Linked DNA regions of Homo sapiens. The protein of the gene in region 1 interacts with the protein of each later gene in a pairwise test. Each region holds a gene or a part of one and is shown on either strand. Other genes may lie near its edges.

Region 1 (3,821 bases):
TGGGGTGGCCTGCGCCTGCAGTCCCAGCTACTTGGGAGGCTGAACTGGGAGGATCACTTGAGCCTGGGGGATAGAGGTTGCAGTGAACCATGATTGCGTCACTCTACTCCAACCTGGGTGACAGAGCAAGACTCTGTCTCAAAAATAATAATAATAATAATAAAATAAAAATAAATAAAACTCTGAGTCAAATATGCATGTCTGCATTCTGATGTTAGCTCACATGCCAAATGAGGCCTGGGGACTGTCAGTGTGCCCCCTCTGATTTCCTACGTCACTTTCTGCTCTGCTGAAATGAGCAACTACCCCTAACTCCCTACACCCCCATGCCTTCTGAAGCTGCATACATGGGCTGCTCTGCCCTTGGCATGTGCTGTTGAGGGCTGAGCCCACTGCTCTTCTACCCCAAACTGCTGTAGGCTACAAGGGTAAGTAAATGTGCTGGATCACAGGGCAGCTCCATGGTGACAGTTGTTTTCTTTGATCCTGTTTTCATCCAGACAGATCGAGTGGAGGCACACCAAGCCCTCCGAGCGTCACTCTTCACTCTCCTTGTCATGGTCACACTCACCCACTGTTTTCATGCTAGGTCACACCGAGGAGGACCTGACCAGCCTACAGTAGGAGATACAGAACAGAGGCTTCCTCCTTCTGGTACCAGTACCAGGGGACCTGCCACATCCCGTATCATCCCTGAACAAGGAAGATGGCTTCTAAAAATAAAGGCAGAACTTTGGGGGGAATTTCTTAAGCATGATATTAGTGAAAGTACATGGAACCAAGAGTCCTGAATGCAGGCAAAGCCCTAATATCCTTGCTATGTGAAATGAGACAGTGACATTATAATTCTCACCTCCCCCTACCAAGTAAGTCACTGCATATAAATGTGCTGTGAAAGCTGTAAAGCACTACACAGAAGTTTGAGGCAGTACCTAAATGATTATTCAGTGAATTAATGTAAAGGGAAATTTTTTTACATCCTTTGATATTAGGAACAGAAGGAAATGCAAGAGTGGCGCAGTCATTTATGGAGTGAATAGAAAACCATGTGCTTTTCACATTTTTAAGATAGAAAGTGGAATATAACAGATTTTTAACTGCCTGGGAATATACTTCGATAAGCCCTTCCCAGCAGCGGGTTTGTGATAGAAGGTCTCCCCCGAGTGGCTGAAAAGTAAAGTACACCTGAACTGCTCCGCTATGCGGTCTCACTTTCAGAAAGAGGTTCTCTCCAACGGAAAGAGGAACTGAACCCCCTTCGCATGATGGGGCTAATTCCCCATATATAAGAAAGAAAAAAACCTGCCTTTTGCCTAGGTCTAACCTATTGACGAATTTGACCATTTTAAGGTTAGATTTTAAAGAAGGCTTTTTTTTTTTTTTTTGAGATGGAGTCTCACTCTTGTTGCACAGGCTGGAGTGCATTGGCATGATCTCGGCTCATTGCAGCCTCCAGCTCTCCAACTCCTGGGTACAAGCAATTCTCCTGCCTCAGCCTCCCAAGTAGCTGGGACTACAGGTGTGTGCCACTACACCAAAAATTTTTTTTTTTTTTAGTACAGACAGGGTTTCGCCATATTGGCCAGGCTAGTTTTGAACTCTAGCCTCAAGTGATCCACCCGCCTTGGCCTCCCAAAGTGTTGGAATTACAGGCCTGAGCCACCGCACCCGGCCAAGAAGCACTTTTTGATCTCCTGTCTGGATCATTCTCTTCCTCACCATCTTCTGTCTCTCTCTTGTCTTGGCAGGCTTCCATTACCTGCCAGAGTTCTCCATATTGGGAAATCCTGCTGTCTCCTCTAGCCACCCTGGTGTTCCTCCTTTACCTCTTACCTCCAGTCCAGAACAGGACTCAATAAACATTTGGTTGATAGCTGAATGAAAGAACCATCCCTCTCACTATTTAACTTCTTGCCATTGGCTTCTAACCTCGGCGTTTTACTGAAACTACTTTTTGACAAACATCACTGACTCCCTTATTGCCCAAATTGAGGGACTTCATTCCTAAAGGCTATTCAGCTGCATATGCCATAGTTAGCCATTTCCCTTGCCTTTGAAAAATGTCCTTTAGTCTCTGGGATCGTATCTCCTCTCATTCCATCGTTAGGATTAATTGCTATTGCTTCTGCATTTCCACAATGTGTTGTCTGAAGTCCAGTTCAGCATTTTTTTATTCTTCAAAGTATTACATTTAGCCATTGACAACTGGCTGTTTGCCCCTCTGAACTATAAAATCCCTCAGGATCCTCTATCCCATGGCCACCCTGCCCTCTATAATCTTTCACAGTCTTGCATGTGGTAGGGACTCATCAATGAGGTCTACCATACAGCACAAGTCTAGTTCTTCTCTCTGGTCCATGATCCCTTTACTTCTCCTTTGCTGGAGGTATTCTTCCACCTGATCCTTGGGGGAAAGAATCCTCTGTCTCTCACTAACTCTCTTCTTTCCTGGGGCATCCTTGATTCTCCTATAAGGCGTCTAGATGAACCACTACTACAGGTATCTAACAGGATGGGTTGATCTCAATGTCAAACATTTGGTTCCATGTGTTCTGATGCTTGGTCCAAAATGTCCTGGTCTACCCCATACTCTAACAACTCTACCCTACACTCTGACGACTCCCAGTCCCACCAGAAGTCTAGGCCCACCGGAGTGCAAGTGATCCTTCCACCTCAGCTTCCCAAGTAGCTGGGACTACAGGCGCATGCCACAACGTCTGGCTAATTTTTGTAGAGGCAGGATCTTACTGTGTTACCCTGACTGGTCTTCATCTCCTGGACTCAAGCAATCCTCCTGCCTCAGCCTCCCAAAGTGCTGGGATTACAGGCATGAACCACAGCACCTGGCCTAGGCCCATGTTTCTAACCTCGATATCTCATCATATCCTCAGAATCATCAACTCTAACCAAACTCATCCACTTCCACCTACTAAATTATTTATCCCTGTTAGGGGCCTTATTTCTGGTCAAGGGAATAAATTCTTTGGTTCACCTAAGATAAAAACTTAGAAGTCATCTTTGATTCATCATGCCACTTCATTCTTGTGTTAATCATTTGCCAACACCCATCAGATTTCCCCTATTTGAAACGTGAACTAGTAGAACTGCCTTCTCCTTGCCCTCCTAATGCCAAGCTCTCCAAGCCATCCCAGGCATTGCTTCTGTCTAACACTCATCTAATAATACTCTTTCTATTTGCTTTACCGTTCGAAAGTCTGCAGGTTGGGCGTGGTGGTTCACGCCTGTAATCCCAGCACTTTAGGAGGCCAAGGAGGGCAGATCACGAGGTGCAGAGATCAAGACCATCCTGGCTAACACGGTGAAATCCCGTCTCTACTAAAAATACAAAAACTAGCTGGGCATGGTGGTGCACGCCTGTAATCCCAGCTAGTGCCTGTAATCCCAGCTATTTGGGAGGCTGAGACAGGAGAACTGCTTGAACCTGAGAGGCAGAGGTTGCAGTGAGCCGAGATCGCGCCATTGCACTCCAGCCTAGGCAACAAGGGCGAAACTCCGTCTCAAAAAAAAAAAAAGTCTTCAAAGTCTTACTCTGGTCACCTAGGCCAAGTACAAGCCTCTCTGCCTGCCTCTTACAGCCACTACACCCTTGCACAGTTATCCCCGGCTGCAGTGATTTCTCACTCTATCCTGAAATGAACTATCCACCACACTGGAGCTGGTATCATCCTCTCTACTTAACATTCCACGCTCCCTTTCACCACCAAACACCTTCATTCACACTGTCCCTCTACCCTCTTTTACTAAAGATAGATAGTTGAAGTGTTTAAGAAAGAAATTAAAGGCCAGGTGCGGTGGCTCAC
Region 2 (3,821 bases), on another chromosome or scaffold:
ATCTTACATGGCAAAATTGATTTCAGAAATGTAATTAAGGTTACTAATTAGTTGAATCTGAGATAATGAAAAAGGAGATGGCTATCTGAGTGAACACTCAAAAGCAGAGTTTTCCCTGGCTGGTGGCAGAGTAGAAGTTAAAGATTTGAAGTATGAGAAGGGGTTAATGTGCTGTAGCTGGTTTAAACACAAAGGGGCCCTAGGAGAAGAAATGTGGGTGGCCTCCAGGAACAGAGAATAGTCTGGCTGACAGCCTGCAAGGAAAACAGGGACCTCAGACCTCAAGGCACAAGGAAGTAAATTCTTTTTTAGTTTTTCCTCTTTTTTTTTTTTTTTTTGAGATGGAGTCTTACTCTGTTGCCCAGGCTGGAGTGCAATGGTGCGATCTTGGCTCACTGCAACCTCTGCCTCTGCCTAGGTGAAGGGTATATGGGGTTCAAGCAATCCTCCTGCCTCAGCCTCCCGAGTATCTGTGATTACAGGCGCTTGCCACCACACCTGGCTAATTTTTGTATTTTTAGTAGAGACAGCATTTCACCATGTTGGCCAGGCTGGTCTCAAACTCCTGATCACAAGTGATCTACCTGCCTCGGCCTCCCAAACTGCTGGTTTTACAGGTGTGAGCCACTGTGCCTGGCCACAAGGAACTAAATTCTGTCAACAACCTGAATGAGCTTGGAAACAGATTCTTCCCCAGAGCCTCCAGGTAAGAGCCTAGCCCGGCCAAGACCTTGACTTTGGCCTTGTAAAATCTTGAGCAGGGAAACCCAGCCAGATTTATAATCTACAGAACTACAAGGGTGTTGTTTCACATGCAATACATGCTCAGTTTGTGGTAATTTGTTGCACAGCAGAAAACCAATATATCAAGTAATTAAAGTTAATATTACTTATAATGGGTGACAGAATATCTCCTGATGTGATACATGAGGATACAACTTCACCTATGTTGTATTCCTGACAAAAATACATTAATCTAATCATGATGGGATGATCAAACAAAATGGAGAAACATGTGGGCATTAGTATGATAACTGAGGAGTTTTTAATATAGACCCTAACTTAGATAGTTGTGTTGAAACAATGTTTACTGTGATAATTGTATTATGATTTCATGGAAGAGTATTCTTCATCCTGGGAGATACATGCTGATATATATGGGGGTGAAGTATCATGAGGTCTCAAACAGTTTAGCCAAGAAGCAAACGGAAAGAAAAAGAAATATATTCACATCCCACACATATACATAGATATGGAAAATATCACCAAGGCGTTAACAACTGGTGAATCTAGGTGAAGGGTATATGGGGTTTCAATGTACTAATTCATTCAACTTTTCTGTAGGTTTGAAATTGTTCAAAGTAAAAAATTGAGGAAGAACATTTTTTAAAAATGTATTAAGCAAAACAAACAAAATCCTAACAATTTTTACAGAATATGCTTGTTAACTGTTTTTTGTTCTTTTTTCCCTGCTCCCATAAATACCTGTGTTCGAACTATAGTTTCAGGTGTTAGCAATATTTAAACAGTTTTAGCTGGTAAAAAGGCATTTTGAATAAGGGCCCTATCTTAGATAGTTGTATTGAGTCAATGTTATTTATTGTAATAACTACTAAGTAAAAGAAACTATAAATAAAAACTGTAAATAAGATAAACTATTGGGGTAGAATTAGAATGGACAGTCAAAGCTACTGCCAATGCAAGACTAGAGATCTTTTATAGATTCTAAGGATTAAATTTGTTCTTTGAAAATAAATGAGACTTTTTAATAGGCAAGGTATTAATGAAAATTGTGCCAATTTAGAACCAAACCATGTTAATGCTTACCCCAGCAAGGCTCCAATTATGCCACCAGCCACCAGGCCACGCAGGCCTACGTTTATCCTAAAAAGACTTCCCGTGACAGCTATTTAAAAACAAGAAAGGCAATATTAAATCATCTTTAAAACTAGAATCCTATTTTAAAACTTTCCTTCTACAAAAAGGAAATCCCTAAGTGAGCTTTCTGAATCCAATGTTAATATACTACTACAGCCTATACTTCCTGAATCTAAAATGCCAACACAGGTAGCTTCCCATCCACTCTGCAGATTCAAAGGAAGACACATCCCTTCTACAAAAGTAAATCTTCAATATGTTCTATGGATCCATTCATTCTGCTTCATTTTTGCCCATCTCTCCTTAAAAATCTGAAAATGTTTTTCCCCTTCTCTTTCTTTCTTCTTTCTTCAAGGAAAATAAAAAAGCAAAAAACCTTCACTAGCCCCTCCAGTTTATGCCTTCCCCTAGACTCACTCTCTCTGTACTGCTACATGGCACCACTCAGGCAGGGTGACAAGCAAGCAGCATTTGGCCTACAATGCTACCTGGTGACCAGTGCACAGAAAGACTTCTTTCCTTTCTGCTGGGACTGTGCATCAATCATGCTCATTCATTTTCCTTTCACTATGCACAATGCAACTAATGCCATCTAAGGTGGTAACACTTTTTAAATAATAACATTTGAAGCCAGGTGCAATGGCTCACACCTGTAATCCCAACACTTTGGGAGGCCAAGGCAGGCGGATCACTTGAGGTCAGGAGTTCTAAGTCAGCCTGGACAACATGGCAAAACCCTGCCTCTACTAAAGATACAAAAATTAGCTGGGTATTGTGGTGCACGCCTGTAATCCCAGCTACTCAGGAGGCGGAGGCACAAGAATTGTTTGAACCCCAGAGGCGGAGGCTGCAGTGAGCAGATATCACACTCCTGCACTCTAGCCTCAGCGGAAGAATGAGACTGTCTCAAAAAACAAAATAAATAACAGTTGAGGTTTATATTTTTAAGTACTATATATTCATTTTTAAAATTTTCAAAATTAACAAGAATCAAAATCACCTTTAATCCCATTACCCAGAGTCAGTAATAAGTTAGTCTTTTTTTCTGATCCTCCAAACAAAATAAAACAAAAAACAAAAACAACAACTGGGGCCGGGCACGGTGGCTCACACCTGTAATCCCAGCACTTTAGGAGGCCGAGACGGGTGGATCACGAAAGTCAGGAATTCAAGACCAGCCTGGCCAAGATGCTGAAACCCCGTCTCTACTAAAAATACAAAAATTAGCCGGGCATGGCGGCACACACCTGTAATCCTAGCTACTCAGGAGGCTGAGGCAGGAGAATCACTTGAACCCAGGCGGCAGAGGTTGCAGTGAGCCGAGATCGCGTCACTGCACTCTTGCCTGGACAAAAGAGCAAGACTCTGTCTAAAAAAACAAAATAAAACAAAAACACAAAAACTGGGGCCATGGTGTACATACTAAATTTTTTATTTTCACAGAACATATTATTAAATTCTGTATCACTGAGTTTTCTCCCACCTAGTTCCATTGCATGGAGGTACCACAAATTTTTGTCTAACACTTAGATTTTCTATTTATAGATATTTTAAATAAAGGTATGATGATAATCCCTCCACAAATAATCTTTTTATACATTTGATTGTTTCCTTAGGACAAACTCACAGAAATGAAATTTCTGGGCCAAAAGGTATAAGTATAAACATTTTTAAGGCTTTTGACTTAAATTACTAAACTGCTATTCAAAAAGGATGCATAAACTTATTTTCCAAATAAAAGTATGCAAGTAATCTAGTCTTCTGCATTCTCTTAGTTTATTTTTTCCAATTTGATAGGCCAGAAGTGGTATGTAATTTTTAAGTTGCATTTCTCTGATTAGTAGAAAAAAGTTGTTTTTCCCTAGGTTTACAAGTTATTTGTGGTACGTCTGTGAATTACAAATTCATGTCCTTTGTCCAGTCTTCAACTGAGCTATCCTTTC

The links.
Region 2: the proteins of DRAM1 (region 1) and TIMMDC1 interact in binary tests that used the Homo sapiens proteins (3 or more experiments, as listed by UniProt).

The regions. Positions count from the first base shown.
Region 1 is NC_000012.12:101,915,259-101,919,079, reverse strand, and holds part of DRAM1 (DNA damage-regulated autophagy modulator protein 1), read right to left. Parts: intron 1-3,821. UniProt on the Homo sapiens protein: Lysosomal modulator of autophagy that plays a central role in p53/TP53-mediated apoptosis. Not involved in p73/TP73-mediated autophagy.
Region 2 is NC_000003.12:119,511,726-119,515,546, reverse strand, and holds part of TIMMDC1 (complex I assembly factor TIMMDC1, mitochondrial isoform 1 precursor), read right to left. Parts: intron 1,907-3,821; coding exon 1,828-1,906; intron 1-1,827.